Linked DNA regions of Homo sapiens. The protein of the gene in region 5 purifies or fractionates together with the protein of the main gene of each other region. This does not show direct contact. Each region holds a gene or a part of one and is shown on either strand. Other genes may lie near its edges. The genes, in order: DNAJC17, MTHFD2, PAPOLG, POGLUT1 and DHX29.

Region 1 (3,586 bases), on a different chromosome or scaffold from region 5:
ACAGCTCACTGCAGCCTCGACTTCCTGGGCTCAAGTGATCCCACCTCAGCCTCTCATGTAGTTGGGACTGCAGGTGTGCATCATCATGCCTGGCTAATTTGTTTTGTGTTTGTTTTTGCTTTTTTTTTTTTTCCAGAGACGGGGTCCAGCTATATTGCCCAGGCTGGTGTCGAACTCCTGGGTTCAAGCTATCCTCCTGCCTGGTCTCCCAGAGTGCTGGGATTGCAGGCATGAGCCACTGTGCCCTGCCCATAATTGGATTTTAAAGAAAGTATTTGACTGAGTGTGATGGCTCACACCTGCAATCCCAGCACTTTGGGAGGCCAAGGTGGAAGGAACGCTTGAGGCCAGGAGTTTGAGACCAGCCTGGGAAACGTAGTGAGAGCCTGTCTCTCTCTCTATATATAAAAAAAAAAGCTGGGCAGGGTGTTACGCACCTGTAGTCCCCGCTACATGGGAGGCTGAGGTGGGAGGATCACTTGAGCCTGGGAAGTTTCAGTGAGCTATGATTTTGCCACTGTATTCCAGCCTGGATGACAGGGTGAGACCCTGCCACTCTTAAAAAAGAAAAGAAAATTCAACACTAGTGTGCATAATGAAAATGGGTGGGGGTGGGAGGAATGGAAGAGCTGCCACTAGGGGGTCAGATGGGGCTGGTGTCTAGGCAAGAGACCAAGGTCTGAGCTGGGCAGTGGTGGCTGGGATCCAGTTCTAACTCAGATGAGATAAGGGATAGGTGTGAAGCCACTCTATAAAGGGTAACAGGTGCTGCTCCTGCCTTTAATGGGGGGGCAAGATTCACGCATACAAGGGAGACATGGTGAGTTCCTTAAGAGGGGTACAAAGTGCTGTGGATGTTCAGTGTAGGCTGAGATTGCTATTAGTTTGAGAGAAGGAATAAAGGCAGGAGAGAAGGTATTTGGGGCCTTGAAGAATGGGCAGAGTTTGGACATGTGGAGATGGAGGCAGGGCATTCCAAGAAAGCAAATGTATATATTAATACATACAGTCTATTTTGGAGCATAAGTAGGTGGCACCCTCAAAGAGGCCTTACCTATTTTTCTTTTCATAGCAGCCATTCTCCTTTCTAGCACTTACTCCCATTTACACTTTGGATACACTGGCTAGCTTCATGGCAACACACTTTTTGGTAGAAAGCAAGAAAAACCTAGGCCCTGGTGTCCCCGCACCATGGTTTAATACCTGTCATAGACAACCTAGGTTGCTGCCATAGGGCAACCTAGAGGACAAACAAATATTTAAAGTGTATACAAGGAAGAACTCCTAAACTGGTTGTCCAAATAGCCTAGGAGTTCTCAATTTGCCCTCTACAGAAAGGCTCCAGGAACTGGGTGAAGGAACCTCTGAAAATCATGCGTGATTTTTTTTTTTTTTGTATTTATTCTGGAGGAGAGGAGGACTTTTTTTTTCTTTTTTTTTTTTTTGACCCAGGGTCTCTCTGTGTTACCCACGCTGGAGTCAGTGGCATGATTACTGCTCACTGCAAACTCTGCCTCCTGGGCTCAAGCAATCCTCCCACCTCAGCCTCAAAAGTAGCTGGGACCACAGGTGTGCACCGCCATGCCTGGCTAATTTTTGTATTTTTGTAGAGATCGGGTTCCACCATGTTGGCCAGGTTGGTCTTGAACTCCTGGGTTCAAGCAGTCCTCCCGCCTTGGCCTCTGAAAAGTGTTTGGGTTATAGGCATGAGCTACCACGCCTGGCCAGAGGAGGGAATTTTAATCCAAAAGTCAAAGAAGCCCTAATGGAGGCCAAGCTCCCTGTGTTACTGATGGCGAAACTGCAGCTCGGAGAAGGTGGTTAGTGGCAGAATTGGGACTAGAACCCTGATGCCCTGATGCCCTGATGCCCTGATGTCCAGCTCAGGCCTCTGCTCCTTCTGCTAAGGCTCCCTGGCCCTGTCCAGCGCGGTTCAGTGGTAGTGATGAGCACCACCACCAAATTTAACTTGTGTTCAGACTACTTCTCTGAATCTCAAATCTGTGTATCTATCTGCCTGTTTGATCCCTCCATGTGGATGTTTCACAGCGGTCTAAATCTTACTACATCCAAAAATTGGCCAGGCGCAGTGGCTCATGTCTGTAATCCCAGCACTTCGAGAGGCCCAGGCAGGCAGATCACCTGAGGTCAGGAGTTTTAGACAGCCTGGCCAACAGGGTGAAATCCTATCTCTACTAAAAATATAAAAACTAGCCAGACGCGGTGGCACGTGCCTGTAGTCCCAGCTACTGGGAGGCTGAGGCAGGAGAATCGCTTGAACCTGGGAGGCGGAGGTTGCAGTGAGCTGAGATCAAGCCACTGCACTCCAGCCTGGGTGACGGAGCTAGAATCTGTCTCGAAAAAAAAAAAAAAAAAAATTGAACTCTTTCAATTCTCTCTCCAAACCTGCTCCTTCCTTGGATTTCCCCATCTTGTGGCACCACCATCCATCCATTCAAGCTAGGAACCTGGAGTCATTCTCAGTACCTCCCTATCCTCTCACCCCTGCCATCTAGAACATCACCGGGTCCTGATGAGTCAGCCTCCCAAATAATCCCCAAACCTGTTCACCCTCTCTGTCTCCACCACTACTGCTCCAGCCCAGGCCCCCATCCACTCAGCTGAATGTTTAGAGGAGCCTGCCAACTTTTTTCTGCTTTCAGCCTATTCCATTCTGATCTATTGAGCCTCTCCAATTCTCCTCACAGAAAATGGAATGATCTTGCTACTCCCTGAAAACCCTATTTAGCACTTCTAATAAAATACTCAATAGAATTTCTTTTCTTTTCTTTTTTTTTTTTTTTTTTTTGAGACGGAGTCTCGCTCTGTCACCCAGGCTGGAGTGCAGTGGCTGCAAGCTCCGCCTCCCAGGTTCACGCCATTCTCCCGTCTCAGCCTCCTGAGTAGCTGGGACTACAGGCGCCCGCCACCACGCCCGGCTAATTTTTTGTATTTTTAGTAGAGACGGGGTTTCACCATTCACAGGATGGTCTTGATCTCCTGACCTCGTGATCCGCCCACCTCGGCCTCCCAAAGTGCTGGGATTGCAGGCGTGAGCCACCGCACCCAGCCAATACTCAACAATTTCTTAGCTCATTCATACATTTTCCTCTGCCAGGAATGCTCTTCCTCCCCTTCTGCTAATCTGGGTTGCTTTTACTTGTCCTTCAGAACTCAGTCGAAATGGCATCCTCAGAGAAGCCTTGCCTTATATTCTATTTCATGGCAGCTGGTTTTTCTTTTTTCTAGCACTTATTTCAGTTTGCAATTATGTATTTATCTGTGTGATTATTTGTCTCATGCCTTAATCCCCTCTGCACTCCTACTTCTGAGGACCAGATCTGATTCATGCTCTTCTGTAGCAGCCCCTTACCTGGTGACTGGCACATAGTAGGTTCTCAATAAGTATTTGTTGAATGAATGAAGTAGTAGCTAAAGAGACCACTGCAACGACTTTACTTGAGAATCAGGAGACCAAGGGCAGTCACTGCGTCTCTCAGGACCTGACTTTCCCCAAATGTAAAATGAAGGAGTAGGGCAAACTACAGTTTGAGGGGCCAAATGGCCCATGACCTTTTTTTTTTTT
Region 2 (4,226 bases), on a different chromosome or scaffold from region 5:
ATATGTGTGTTCCCTTACTGGGTGGTGCTAACTTTGATCACGTGGTTGAAGCAGTAACTGTCATGTTTCTTCACTGTAAATTTACCATTTTCCTTTCCTTCCTGGAGGCTAGAAGTAAAGGTCAAGGTGTTGACAGGATTGGTTTCCCCTGTTCTTTGTTTGTTTGTTTTGTTTTTTGAGACAGAGTCTTTTTGTTGCCCAGGCTGAAGTGCAGTGGCACAGTCTCGGCTCCCTGCAACCTCTGCCTCCCAGATTCAAGCGATTCTCATGCCTCAGTCTCCCCAGTAGCTGGGATTACAGCGTCCGCCACGATGCTCAGATAATTTTTTGTGTTTTTAGTAGAGACGGGGGTTTCAACACATTGGCCAGGCTGGTCTCGAACTCCTGGCCTCAGGTGATCCGTCCGCCTTGGCCTCCCAAAGAGCTGGGGATTACAGAAGTGAGCCACCGCGCCCTGCCCTCCTTAAGTTTCCTTGCGGGAGAGATACTTTGAGACTATGCAAAAAGTTTGCGGGAAAAAATACAGGAAGCCCAGTTGAATCTGAATTCCAGATAAGCCATAAATAAAGTATAAATATGACCTCCCAAAGTGTTTATCTAAAATTCTGATTTGATTGGGCATCTTGTGTTTTTATTTGCTAGATCTGGCAACCCTATATGTAAATATCTTGCTCCTCATCCAACTTTCACCCAGTTGTTTTGACATCTATTGCTGCTTCTGAATCAGGGTTGCACATGCAACCCTGACGTCTGTCTCTGAATATCTTTTATGATTTTACTTTTTTTGTTGTTGTTTTGAGATATGGTCTCACTCTCGTCGCCCAGGCTGGAGTGCAGTGGCGCGCCTTCAGCTCACTGCAGCCTCAACCTCCTGAACTCAGGTGATCCTTCCACCTCAGCCTCCCCAGTAGCTGGTACTGTAGTCACGCGCCACCATGTACTGATTTTGGAAAATGGTGATTTTCTAACTCCATCATTCCTTTTACTTCTGTTCGTTGGCATTCTATCAGCTTGTCTTTTCATCCACCCTTTACAGTGCTTGGCACACAGTAGGCGCTCATATAATTGTTCAACGAATGAATGAATGAACTTTTCTCTTGTGTTGTCCGGCCTTCGGTGACACTAGCGGCGTCAGGCAGGAGTTTGACTTCCTCAGCCTATCATGGCACGTTGCCGAGGCTTCAGCGCCTTACAGGACCTCGCTCCAGGCTCTTCTGGCTCCAATCAAAAGCAGGGCTCTTTCGGACTTCGCTTACGTTTAATAAAGAAAACCGGTTGGCCCCTTCGGCTCCACCTGGCTCAACAGACAGCCAGTGGCATGCGGCAGGGACCAATGGGTGGCGGAGGGAGGCGGGGCCTGCCACGAGGCCGCAGTATAACCGCGTGGCCCGCGCGCGCGCTTCCCTCCCGGCGCAGTCACCGGCGCGGTCTATGGCTGCGACTTCTCTAATGTCTGCTTTGGCTGCCCGGCTGCTGCAGCCCGCGCACAGCTGCTCCCTTCGCCTTCGCCCTTTCCACCTCGCGGCAGTTCGGTAAGAGGGTCACAGAGCTCGGTCAGCGCGGAAAGCTGAGGGGAACGGAGGGCGAGGGGCACGCCGGGCCCCCGAGGGACACCGAGGGAAGTCCTTCCCGAACATCTCCGCCCCGGCGGTGGTGGCCGCTGAGGGGTGTGGCGGGGCGACGTGGCACCGAGCGCCGCCGCAGCTCTCGACTGGGGCGCTTCCTCGGCGCGGAGGGCTGGTACCCGAAGCCCGCCTTTCGGAGGGAGCCGCTCTCCTGCGACTCGGGGCGTCGCCGGGGCCCGTGGCCAGTCGGCGGGCGGGACGGGGGTGGCGTGCGGAACGCGAAGGCATCAGTTTACGCGGAGCCTTCCGACAGCGCCGGCCGCCTCTGGCTGGGATGCTGAGAGTCGTCTGGGGGAGAACAGGCGAGGGTTCCAAAAGAGCAGCCCTCGGCGAGTTGTCCTTGCGGGGACCCTAGCGGCGGAGGGCGCTGCTGCAGCTGATGAAATCGCGGAGCCGACTTGCTCGGGGTCCCCGCGCCGCCCTCCTCCCTCCGCCGGTGGGAGTGGCCCGCGCTGCCTCCGCTCTGCCAGGAACATGAACGGACTCTGGGCACCCTAGCTTTGGCTGCAGCCCACCAGAGCCTGTCAGTGCCGGGCTGCGTACATAGAGGTGGCAAACATCCGGGAGGCTCCCAGGGCCTTAGGGAAAGGGGGAATGGAGAGTGACAAGTACCCATATTTCAGCGGTACTTGCAGAATTTCAGTTTTACAAGATGAAGAGTTCTGAAGATGGATGGTGGTGATGGTTGCACAACATATGAACGTATTTAATACCACTGAACTGCACTTAAAAATGGTTAAGATGGGCCGGGCGTGGTGACACGCGCCGAGGCTGAGGCACGAGAATCGCTTGAGCCCAGGAGTTCGAGGCTGCAGTGAGCCGTGATTGCACCACTGCCCTCCAGTCTGGGCGACAGAGCGAGACCCTGTCTCAAAAAAAAAAAAAAAAAAAAAAGTTGATAAGGTTTATGTTATGTGAATTTTACCACAATAACAAAATTGGGAAAAATATACAGGGGAGGAGGAAAGGAAAAGCTCTGTTTGCATTTTTGGGTTTCCTTGGGAAGGTGATTTGGTCGGTCATTAGAGCGCTGGCATTGTTGGCATTGTTAGAGCCCTGCACCTTACAACATCAGCCCCTTCTTTTTTTCATCTAACGTTCACTGTGTACCAGACACTATGCCAAGCTGTGCGAATTCAAAGATGAGAAAAACTGTTCTTAATGGAGCTCATGTTCCTGACAAGGGGCAGAACACGCGTGTAATTTCCAGTCAGTGCGGAAATGCTGTTAGAAATATTTCAAAGGCGCTGCTTGTTGGAGCAATGAGTTCTTGAAGGAAAACGTGGGAGGGGACTTTCAGGGTTTTCCCTGGTCTGACTCTTGACCTCCCCCATGTTTCGTTACTGTGTGTTTTCTCCCCTTCTCCCTCTTCCTGAGTGCTGGCCTCATGTGACTGTGGACCAGACCTTTCCTAGGCTTCCATGGTCCAAAAGAGATTTATAAAGATGCTCTCATTCATTACCTAAAGAACTGGGCCAGTTTGTCTACACTCTCCAATAACAAATGCTCTTTTCACTACCTTTCTGAAAGAACAAGTAAGCTTCATCCACATCTCTGAAAGCAATCCATATTATCTGTACTGCACATTTGCTATTTACAATTCCCACATATTGCTTTCTTACTGCTGCTTATTTTTTAAAATACTGTTTATTTTTAAATACTGCTTATTTTTAAAAAGTTGTATCCTTTTAAAAATATGAGTCTGCATTCTTTTTTTTTTTTTCTTTGTTGGATGGTATGAGAGTTTCAGGAACATAAACCTATGGTTGGAGAAATAGTAGCCTAGGAGACAGTGGGATTAGGAAGTCAATGGACTTTAGAGGCAGAAGTTTGCCTTTGAATCTTGTTTCTACTATCCTCAGTTTCATCTTCTGTATTACAGTGTTATTATAATAGTCCCAAGGTAACAGAGTAATATATGTTAAAGTGTAAGCAAAACACCTAGTGTTTAATAGATGTTTGTTCCTTTCTCCATTATGTCTTCCTTCACTCATTATTTTTCCCATTAATAATTGATAACAACTCTTCCCTAAATCACTTGATTATGAATTGTAAAATGTCCTGATACTAATTTCTCATGGAAAATTACAGTACTGTAAGCTATTGAATTAAAAGGAAAGTGAAGATGCTACTCACTTGGATTTTAGTTTTGAATTTTATTTTATTTTTTGAGACGGAGTCTTACTTTGTTGCCCAGGCTGGAGTGCAATGGTGCAATCTTGGCTCACTGCAACCTCTGCCTCCTGGGTTCAAGCTGTTCTCCTACCTCAGCCTCCCAAACAGCTGGGACTATAGGCGCACACCACCATGCCCTGCTAATTTTTGTATTTTTAGTAGAGACAGGGTTTCACCATGTTGGCCAGGCTGGTCTCGACCTCCTGACCTCAAATGATCCACCCACCTTGACCTCCCAAAATGCAGGGATTACAGGCATGAGCCACAGTTTTGGATTTTATTTGAACAGTCCTCTTGACTTCTTCCTATTCTGTTGATTACCTATCTTAATGGGATTTTTTTCTTTCCTTTTTTTTTTTCTTTTTTGGCAGGGGAATCTCTCCCTAGGTCAGGTTGGAGTGCAGTGCTGCAATCACGGCTTACTGC
Region 3 (3,586 bases), on a different chromosome or scaffold from region 5:
TTTTCCATAGCTGTTGGTGTTCTGTTAGGAGTTGGCTGAAAAGAATATTTACCCAAATCTTAAAGAAACAATATTAATTGCTCATCCTAAATTGAAATTACTAATACGTCTGAAAATTTGAATGATTGGTCTGAGTTTCTCCTTGATTTACAGAAGTCATTACTGATAACAAAATCTCATTTCTTGTGTGTTGATATGCCCTGCTTCCAGTAGGTGGTGGTAAAACTATATTTGTTAGAATCTGAATTGATTTAACCAAAAAGATCACCCAAACTGTAGAAATTAACGGTGGCAGTTGAATTCAATCTAATTTAAATTATCTTCTCTTACCAATCCATGTTTATAGTAATTTTTATAATAGTGTAACCAATAACTAGTTTTCCAGTTTATATAGATTTATATGGGTTTTTGTAGGTACATAATAGCAATCTATTTCAATGTTTATATTTTAGTTTATTCGACTTGAATCAACATTTAAGGACCCCCGCACTGCTGAAGAAAGAAAAAGAAAATCAGTGGTAAATATATTAATAGTGTGCTTCAGAATATTTATTGTAAAGCGCCATGTATCAGGAAAAGTGCCATATTAGAAAGTAGGTCAGATTAGATTTATTTTCAGGTTTTCGTTAGGTTTTATTTTAAGTAGAAATAAGTGTTTGCATATAGGAAAGTTAGTTTTCACTTGTGTTGATTCTTCTGTTTTTAGGATGCCATTGGAGGAGAATCTATGCCTATTCCAACTATTGATACATCACGCAAAAAGGTAACAAGATAGTCTTGTTCATAGGTACAGTACATAGGTAAAAACTCATAGGTAATCTACAAGTACAAAAGGCTTATTAAGAGCCTAGCACTGGGAAAAAGTAAGATTTTGTCCCTGTCCCCAAGGACTAGCAGTGTAGTTGGGGTTGGAGATAGCAAGTATATAGTTCTGAATGTATGTACCTCAAAAGTCTAAAAAAGAGGCAGTAGTTTAAGACAACTTTATTATCTATTTAGATTATGTTCACCCTTTGTTTTTTATCTTTAAAGAAGCAGTTGGATGCTCAGCACATTAATTTCTTACCAAGCACCTGGAGGTATATCTCTGTTGTGTACTATTGCTTACTGCCAAAACATAGGTTTGATAATTAGGAACCATATGTATTAATATTTTAGAGGAACCAAATGTAGTGGTATATATAGTAAGTACCTTTAAAACATGAGCTAAACGCCCCTAAATTGTAATTTAAATGTTTATTATTTGAAGAATTACTTTTATAACTAAAAATGTGTGTAGTATTAAGTGTGGTATGCTAAAAAGCAAGTACTCAAAAACCAGCCTTGTGTAAATAGAGAAAAACCTTCTCTGAGAGTTTATAATGAACAGAATGGCTTATTTATAATAATGATAAATAATTATAAATATATATGATGATAATTATAAATTATAATTTATAATAAAACAGAATGGCCATTAAATAGTAAAGTGCTTTTCATCAACTGTTACCCTGCCAGGTTCTCCAGGATGTAGTAGCTATTCTAAAGCAAAATAGTATACTCACAGGCTATTAGTTGTAGATTTTGAGCCTTTAACATAAGATTAAGTTACAAAAAATATGAACGTATAATTATGTGTCATGGTGGAAGAAAAAATTTTGAGATGGATATTGAAGTACAAAAGAGTGAAATGACATATCTGGATTTTTTAATATATCCAGTCTAAAGGGAAAGTGGGTACACCAAACAATTGCAGCAAAATTGTAATAATGTCTGAAACTTGGTTTTGGCATTTAAGTCCTTATTGCCCTGGTGTCTACTTCTTTGTATATCTGAAATTGCTCATAATTGTTTTAATGCATATGGATATGATACAGATACTGGCTTAGCCAAGGTAAAACAAGAGGAGAATTAAGCAGTCATCTCTTGACAAGAAACTATCCCCATTACAGAAGTCTAGATTTTGCCTTCCTTTTTTTTTTTTTTTTTTTTTTTTTTGGACATGGAGGCTCGCTCTGTAGCCCAGGTTGGAGTGCAATGGCGCGATCTTTTTGTATTTGTAGTGGCTAATTTTTGTATTTGTAGTGGAAAAGGGTTTCACCATATTGGCCAGGCTGCTCTTGAACTCCTGACCTCAAGTGATTCGCCCGCCTTGGCCTCCCAAAGTTCTGGGATTACAGGCGTGAACCACCATGCCCGGCCCTAGATTTTGCCTTCTTTATGTAATAATCTTTAATGCCCTCAGAATCCCTCAAACCGATGTCCCTGAATTTCATAACCATCAAAGTTATCTAGCCTAAGTACAAAGTTCAGTTTTCCTGAGAACTTAAGTATCTCACAGATTGAGTCAGTGGTCTTCTTCATGAATGTATTACAGAAACAAATTGAGGGACATAACTCTCAGATATTAAATTTTTCTCTACTGCACACACTCATTTTTCACTTCACACCCCAAGAGCTTCCTGTTTAGTCACCATGAACTTCCTTTTTTTTTTCTTTGCTTGACCTTAAGGACTGTGTTCTTTATGCATTTCTTGATCCAGGCATGGCAGTTCCTCTTTTCCTGTACATATTCACACTCCTGCCACTTCTACCCTTTCTCTTATCCCTCTGCTTTTCACCTCTGACTGTAAAAAGAAGTAGCAGTTCCGAAAGCAAGAGTTCCCTATGAACACGGAAGGAAATATTCATTGCATACTTGAGTGTTTAGGAGCTAGAGGGTTTGGGAGAAAAACTCCCCAAGTTTTGTGACTGACTTTCTAGCTGGGCCTTTATAATATATATGATGTGCTTTTCCTTTTTTGTTTCCTCTTTCTTTCTAATAGAGACTACCCAGTAAAGAACTACCAGATTCATCATCTCCAGTTCCAGCAAACAACATCCGTGTCATCAAAAATTCCATTCGACTGACCCTTAATCGGTAAAAGCAGTGCCTCCTCACTTAAGTGAACAAGCAATCATTTAGTGGCATAGATGCAGCCACTTGTTTTTTAAATAGAAGTGGCTGTCATACGTGAAATAAGGTGAAAGTGACAGCCTTCAGTCTAATAACCTTGAAGTGGTTTTTGAACTGTCAAACTTTGACCTGTAGATGCTGTAGCATTCTCTCACTGATTGCTACATACACTTCTCTGAGGATCACCTGCTGTCAAATTGCCATCTACAGTATTACAGCTTTGCATTTGGGGGTTTTACTGCCTTAACTTTCAATGCTTGTTATGGGAACCAGTTCTTAGCCACTTGGACACTGATAACAAGTCCTGAACTCCTTTTTTGTTTTGTTTTTTGTGTTTTTCTTTTTTTGTCTTATGTTGTAATCATTGTATAGAGCTAAAAAAATTGAAAACAAACAAAAAAATTGTCTTGTATTTTCCAAATGTTAATACATTTACTTTAGCATTGAAGCCACTTTGAAACCTGAGATAAATGAATGTGAGGTATCTTTTCTGCTTTCCTCATTTGTGTAGATGTACTGTCTGTTCTGTTGATTTAAATTATTTTTTTCCAGATTGGCACATGAAATATTTAAACTTTTTTGTGTGCCTTTCTGTCCAAATGTTGCATAGTTACCAGGGAAGATTAGTCCAGTGATTACATAAGAGTTGGG
Region 4 (3,586 bases), on a different chromosome or scaffold from region 5:
AATTTAGCCTACATATATATTTACATGAGTGTTCACAGTAACAAGGATGTTCACTGCAGCATTGCTTGCGTTATCCAAAAAGCAAAGTGATGTGGTAAGGGATAATCTAAATGTCCACTGATAGAGGGCTGAATAAAGAAATCCATATAATAAGTTATTATGCAGCCATGAAAAAGTGAGGCATTCTCTATGGACTCTTATGGAACAATCTCAAAATCTACTGTTATATGGAAAAGAAATCTAAGTGCAGAACAGAAGACAGCATGTTTTATTTTGTTGATGAGTCTAGATGCTTGTAAATGTACAGACTATTTCTAGAAGGATATACAAGACACAGAATTCTAATTGTCTTTTGAAAAGAGGTCTCAGGGACTAGCAGTCTGAGGGTCTGAGGTGGAAGAGAAACTTCCTTTTCACTGAATGTCTTTTGGAGGTATCCAAATATTTTAGCATGGTAAAATATTTGGATATTTTACATATCCAAAGTGTATGTAATACTCTTTGACACTAAAAGAAAAAAAAAACTAGTTAAAAAATGTAAAAAAATATTGCAGTACAATTTATACATTACAGCTAAAATGCTCGTATTTCTTTCACATTTGGCTTTTAATTTAGTTTAATTTAATTTTTATTTTTTGAGATGGAGTTTCTTTCTTGTTGACCAGGCTGGAGTGTAATGGCGTGGTCTTAGCTCACTGTAACCTCCGCCTCCCGGGTTCAAGCGATTTTCCTGCCTCAGCCTCCCAAGTAGCTGGGATTACAGGCGCCTGCCACCATGCCTGGCTAAATTTTTTTGTATTTTTAGTAGAGTCGGGGTTTCACCATATTGGCCAGGGTGATCTCGAACTCCTGACCTCAAGTGATCCACTCACCTCAGCCTCCCAAACTGCTGGGATTACAGGTGTGATCCACCATGCCCGGCCACATTTGGCTTTTCAAATATACTCTCTTATATGATTCCATTTATAGAAAACTAGAAAATAATCTATAATTCGAGAAAGTAGTCAGCGGCTGCCTGAAGGTGGGGCATGGGGAGGAGAGGGAGACAGGGAGACGCAGGAGAGAGGGAATGCAAAGAGGCAGAAGGAACGTTTTGGTTGTGATGGAAGGTTCATTATCTTGGTATAAACATACATGAAGACTTATCAGTGTACACTGTAGGTTTTATTTTTAATTGATAAATAATAATTGTACATATTTACAGGATACAATGTAATGTTTTGATATATGTTTACATTGTGGAATGAGTATATCAAGCTAATTAACATATCCTCACATACTATTTTTTTGTTGTGGGAACATTTACATTGTATACTTTATATGTAATTTATGTTAACCACACCTCAATAAAGCTGTTATTAAAAAATACCATTACTCCTCATCTTTGAAATGACTTGTCTCTAGCATTAATTAGATAAACCTCTGGTTCCTCTGCTCATCCTTGAAATGTGGAGTTTATATTTTATTTTATTCAAAACTGAGTTTTTAAAATGTCACATAGATTTCTGAAACTGGATGAGTTAAAAGTATCTAGACCTGCCTGTAATCCCAGCACTTTGGGAGGCCGAGGCAGGCAGATCATGAGGTCAGGAGTTTGAGACCAGCCTGACGAACGAGGTGAAACCCCGTCTCTACTAAAAACACAAAAATTAGCCAGGTGTGGTGGCGGGCGCCTGTAGTCCCAGCTACTCAGCAGGCTGAGGCAAGAGAATGGCTTGAACCCGGGAGGCAGAGGTTGCAGTGAGCCGAGATCACACCACTGCACTCCAGACTGGGTGACAGAGTGAGATTCTCTCTCTCAAAAAAAAAAAAAAAAGTATCTAGACGTAGAAAGATATTATTTCTAACTATATGGGAATCTTTGAGATATCATACGACTGTGTGCATTTCATTCAGGATTGTGTTTTGGAATACTGCATTCTATTCGTATTTTGTCCCTCTCTGTTTTCCTTAGTTGTATATGTAGCTAGGATAGGGAACTTTCAGTGTCATTGGAAATATATATTATTTTATTGCTAATGAAGGTCCTGTACTCCCTTCAGAACATTTCTAAGCTCATGATTATGACCAAAATGTTCTGAGCTCAGGAAGAAGAGAATTGTGCCTTTCAGAAACTTTGAAAGCATTTCATTTCATTTGGCAATTGTTCAGCAAACTATTAAACATTGGGTAAGCTTTCAAAGTCCAACAATGTCTATATTCTTATTTTATTTCTCATCTGTGGAAATCAAAAATTCTCCTAGACTCACAATTTGTACTTAAAGTCTCTATTATTGAGTTCCAAATAATGAAACAAATGTCTGTTTAAAATACCTTAACGATTTTTTCCTCTACAACCTTATTTCCTCCGATATCTGATAGCCAAAGGGTAACTGATTTCCTCAGGGTAGTGAGATATTAAATAATCTTTCTTTTTTATTGTTCTTTATTATTATTTATTTGAGACAGGTCTTGCTCTATCACCCTGGCTGGAGTGCAGTGGCATAATCACGGCTCAGGCTTACTGCAGCCTTGACCTCCTGGGCTCAGGTGATCCACTCACTTCAGCCTCCCAAGTAGCTAGGACTACAAACACATGCCACCACACTCAGCTAATGTTTGTATTTTTTGTAGAGATGAGGTTTTGCCATGTGGCCTAGGCTCGTCTTGAACTCCTGAGCTCAAGCGATCTGCGTGCATTGACTTCCCGAAGTGCTGGGATTATAGGCACAAGCCACCATGCCCAGCCTGTTTTCTTGTTTACATTTATTTATTTATTTATTTAGACAGTTTCGCTCTTGTTTCCCAGCCTGGAGTGCAATGGCACAATCTCAGCTCACCGCAACCTCTGCCTCCTGGGTTCAAGCAATTCTCCTGCCTCAGCCTCCTGAGTAGCTGGGATTACAGGCATGCGCCACCACAGCTGGCTAATTTTGTATTTTTAGTAAAGACAGGGTTTCTCCATGTTGGTCAGTTTGGTCTCAAACTCCCGACTTCAAGTGATCCGCTCATCTCAGCCTCCCAAAGTGCTGGGATTACAGGCTTGAGCCACCGCACCCGGCCTTGTTTATATACTTATAAGAATAAATATTAAATTCTTACAAAGTTGTTATTAAATACAAATAATACAAATCTTTATGAACGAATCGATAATTTTTTGCAACTCTGCACATTTATTTCACTTTTAATGACAGAATAGGGATTGTTTAGAAAGATGCTCTTACATAAGGGAATATTATGCCCTCTGAGTTTTGTACCTTCTAATTTTATAAAGATCTGAGTTAAAAAAAAAAAACAAACTCCAAAAATAAAGTTTATCTTTTGGTGTGTGCAATGCTGCCTAAACCCAACCTCCACCCTCAGCCCATGACCCTCCCTGCTTACCACCCTGCCTTCAGCCCACTGACATGGTACCTCAGGTCTCACACCTGAAGTTCTGAAGTCCTGGCTAGTGTAATTTGCAGCACTAGTTACTCCTCTTTATTTATTTATTTTTTAATAGACAGGGTCTCACTCTGTTGTATTATTTGCCACTGCCGGATTATTTGCCATAATCCAACTCCTGGGCTCAAGTAATCCACCACAAAGTGCTGGGATCACAGGTGTG
Region 5 (3,586 bases):
TAAACTTTGTTACTTATTAGCATTTTAGTAAACTGGTAACATAGCTATTATTTAAAAAAAAATAATAAGCCAAACATGGTGTCATATGCCTGTAGTCCTAGCTACCCAGAAGGCTGAGGTGGGAAGATTGCTTGAGCCCAGGAGTTAAAGTCCAGCCTAGACAACATAGAGAGACTCTGTCTCTAAGAAATATATGTATATATACACATACCTATATATGTATTTGTGTGTGTGTGTATGATTAGGGACTTTCTGTTAGGTTTATTTCAGCATGGTTTTTCCACCATGTGTTTCTTTCAAATGCAGAGCTATTTCTCTGTATAAAATAAACACATTATCCTTCAACAGAAATCTGAAATGAGCCGGGCATGGTGACACCTGCCTGTAATCCCACCACTTTGGAAGGCTGAGGCAGGAGGATCGCTTGAGGCCAGGAGTTCAAGACTAGCCTCGGTAACATAGGGAGATGCCATCTCTACAAACAATTAAAAAAAGTTAGCCGGGCCTGGTGGCTTGTACCTGTTGTCTCAGCTACTTGGGAGGCTGAGGCGAGTATCCGCACTCCAGTCTGGGTGACAGAGCAAGACCCCACATCAAAAAATAAGAGAGAAATCTGAAATGGACATCTGAGTTTGCAGTTTGCCCAGTGCAGTGTTTCTCAAACTTGCCAAATCATCAAAATCATCCTGGCAGTTGCAAAGAATACAAGGTCCAAAGACCTACCCCAGACATACTGATCTCTATGGGAGAGGCCTGTGGCTATATTATTTTTTAAATATTTTATTCTGTAACATTTCCCCTCTAAGGCTATCCCATTTTTAAATGCAGTTAATTATTTTTAATAAACTGAGTTGTTTTTCTGGTAGAATGTCCCACATTTAGGATTTGGTTAGTTACATACTCATGCTTTAACATGTTCATGTATTTCCTATAAACTGGTAGTTATATTTGGAGGTATGATTAGAATAAGTTTTGAGGAAAATAATACTTTCTAGTTGGTGCTGTATTCTCCCCACTGCGTCACACCAGGAAGCACTTAAATTTGGTTGTCCTTTTAATGTTAAGAATTGATCAGTGACTTCAGTATGATTGTACTGAACAAAGTATCCCCAGTTTATTCTCAACAGTCACAGGCAAGTTGGGGGAGCTACTGATCTAGTTCTACTACCCTGAAGCCTCATACTCTGTGTTTATTTGTATAACTAAATATGAATGCATAAGCATTAAAATGTATTAATTTTCCTATACTGCTGGAAACAGATCAAGTCTTAACATATTAAGACGTGGGCTCTTTTCTCAGGAAGCTTTGTGCATTATAACTTTGGCATTAGAAAGAATTACATTTTATAAAGTATAGGTTGAACCTCAGCTTTTAATTAAGCAAAATGATTTTTTGAAATGATATCAGTGTTTCCCTTTGCCATAAGAGAGAGAGCAGAACTTACCAAGTTGGGTGTAGTATATACGTTTGACTTGGGAGGAAGGAAGAAGTATGTTAGTGCTCTCTCTTGGATTTATAACAAAAAGTTGGTAGAATGCCAAACATTTGAAAAACAGTAACTGAACTTACTCTTGTACTTTCTTTTACTCTCTCTTCCTCAATTTAAAAATCATGGTTCTTGGAGCCAGGTATGGTGGCTTGCGCCTGTAATCCCAGCTACTCAGAGGGCTGAGATGGGAAGATTGCTTGAGCCCAGGAGTTCAGAGCTGCAGTGAGCTGTGATCACACCACTGCACTACAGCCTAGGCGAGAGTGAGACTCCATCTCTTAAAAAATAAAAAAGAAAAACGTTCTTTCTAGACCTGCCATTGTTCCAACTTCAAACAAGTGACCTCTCTTTTTCCCCTCCCTCCCACTTTTTTGTTGTTGTTTCTAATGCCACTGTAACCATTGCAACTATTGAAAGCGACAGCATTCTCTGAGTATCTAACGTAAATGTAGAATTTCAGTTTTGCAGCCCTGATAATTGTAACTTCCTAAAGAGTGGTTGTGAGGTTCTTAGGAAGTCACAATTTCAGAGTTAACTATTAAGTAGAAGCAGTTGTTAACAAAACCCCTTTAGCAAATAATGCAGCCTCTGTTGCTCTGTTTGTCAAATTAATTGGTATTTGATTCCTTTGTTGTGTAGAGAGGTCTGTCACTTCCGCATTGACACCTCTCCAAGAGCGCTTCCCTGTTAGAATTTTTTGTTTCCTTTGGACTAAACATGGAGAAACTGGTAACAGTTCTTTCTTCCTTGCTCATACTTTGGAAATTCTGCCATACTCTGAAGAACACTGAAGAGTCAGTAGAGCCTTCAGTATATTGCAGCCAAGTGAAAAAGTTGAGAAACTTACTTTCTTCAAGGAATTTTTATAGAATAAAATTTATAATTCCTTATAAAGAAGTAACATTTCACATCATATTATCTCTTTGGGGTTTAGCCTATACAAATGTTATCTGTTTTCAAAATGTTAACTTTTGTCAAACTAGGTATGGCATAACCTACAGCAATAAAATCTATGTAGGGCAAAAAATATTTTATAGGTGTCTCTAGTTTTATTACTGGTGTTAATTCTGTATTCTAATGTAAAAATTTTTAGTGACATATACCTCTTATTTACATGTGCATACCTTGGAAAATTAGACAATGTTGCATTTATTCGTGGCTTTTTTTTTTCCTTCCACTCAGATGACAAGATTCTGCAGATCATTACGGAATTGATAAAAACAGAGAATAACTGAAACTGAAATTCATGGTCAACTGCTTTAAAAATTAAGATGAAGATACAGTCATGAAATTATCTGAAAATGGGTCATCACATTAAGTATTTCATTACTTAAAATGTTGGTACTAGCCATTAACTTAAAGGTGGTGGGAAAAAAGCACATACTTTAAACATGTATAATTTTCTAGTTCCTTTTTAATGATGATTATTCTGAATGTATTTGCCACTACATTTACAATAAATTCTTTGGTATTATGCATGTTTTGCTCATCGTTGTGTTAATAAGGGCAAGGCCTATGTCTGTGGTATCTGTAGCTTAATGTTGTGATTCCCTGTGTAGCTGCCTCATCCCCTATCAGTCCTTGATGTCTGCAGAATTTAAACCCTATAGACCCAGAAGGGAAAATAATCTCCAAAACCAATTATAATTAAATTTCCATGAAAAGGAACAACTTCAGAAGTCAGTTATTTAGTATTTGATAGTCAATTTCAGAACCTAAATAAATGCACTATTAATAGATGCCACCTATTTCAGTAACATTCAAAAAGCATAAACATGTGGTTCTGGAAGACAGGCAAGATTGACTAATAAATACTCCTGTCAGCCTTGGGATGGATAGTTTGCACTGTTTTCCTCAGGCTACCGCTGTGATATCCCTGCCCCTGAACCCTTTTTATATACGCGATTGAACTGGTAAGGTCAGTAACTTTGAGATAGTAAAGTATGCGTAGGTATTTTTCATTGGTCCTATTTGTTTTGGTTACTAACAATCTTTTGAAATTCCATTTTTATTACTTAGAGGGATTTCTCATTTCTTAATCAATAGATTTTTGATAAACTTCAAATATAGTCCCTTTTAGATCAAAAGGCAGAAAT

Evidence for each region.
Region 1: the proteins of DHX29 (region 5) and DNAJC17 fractionate together in Homo sapiens (co-fractionation; one large-scale study listed by BioGRID). This does not show direct contact.
Region 2: the proteins of DHX29 (region 5) and MTHFD2 fractionate together in Homo sapiens (co-fractionation; one large-scale study listed by BioGRID). This does not show direct contact.
Region 3: the proteins of DHX29 (region 5) and PAPOLG fractionate together in Homo sapiens (co-fractionation; one large-scale study listed by BioGRID). This does not show direct contact.
Region 4: the proteins of DHX29 (region 5) and POGLUT1 fractionate together in Homo sapiens (co-fractionation; one large-scale study listed by BioGRID). This does not show direct contact.

What each region holds. Positions count from the first base shown.
Region 1 is NC_000015.10:40,800,961-40,804,546, reverse strand, and holds part of DNAJC17 (dnaJ homolog subfamily C member 17), read left to right. Parts: intron 1-3,586. UniProt on the Homo sapiens protein: May negatively affect PAX8-induced thyroglobulin/TG transcription.
Region 2 is NC_000002.12:74,197,211-74,201,436, forward strand, and holds the start of MTHFD2 (bifunctional methylenetetrahydrofolate dehydrogenase/cyclohydrolase, mitochondrial isoform A precursor), read left to right. Parts: upstream 1-1,404; 5' UTR 1,405-1,431; coding exon 1,432-1,532; intron 1,533-4,171; exon of another isoform or gene 4,172-4,226. UniProt on the Homo sapiens protein: Although its dehydrogenase activity is NAD-specific, it can also utilize NADP at a reduced efficiency.
Region 3 is NC_000002.12:60,794,258-60,797,843, forward strand, and holds part of PAPOLG (poly(A) polymerase gamma), read left to right. Parts: intron 1-452; coding exon 453-518; intron 519-706; coding exon 707-763; intron 764-2,804; coding exon 2,805-2,903; 3' UTR 2,904-3,586. UniProt on the Homo sapiens protein: Responsible for the post-transcriptional adenylation of the 3'-terminal of mRNA precursors and several small RNAs including signal recognition particle (SRP) RNA, nuclear 7SK RNA, U2 small nuclear RNA, and ribosomal 5S RNA.
Region 4 is NC_000003.12:119,471,891-119,475,476, reverse strand, and holds part of POGLUT1 (protein O-glucosyltransferase 1 precursor), read right to left. Parts: intron 1-3,586. UniProt on the Homo sapiens protein: Dual specificity glycosyltransferase that catalyzes the transfer of glucose and xylose from UDP-glucose and UDP-xylose, respectively, to a serine residue found in the consensus sequence of C-X-S-X-P-C.
Region 5 is NC_000005.10:55,255,627-55,259,212, reverse strand, and holds the end of DHX29 (ATP-dependent RNA helicase DHX29), read left to right. Parts: intron 1-2,672; coding exon 2,673-2,725; 3' UTR 2,726-3,158; downstream 3,159-3,586. UniProt on the Homo sapiens protein: ATP-binding RNA helicase involved in translation initiation. Part of the 43S pre-initiation complex that is required for efficient initiation on mRNAs of higher eukaryotes with structured 5'-UTRs by promoting efficient NTPase-dependent 48S complex formation.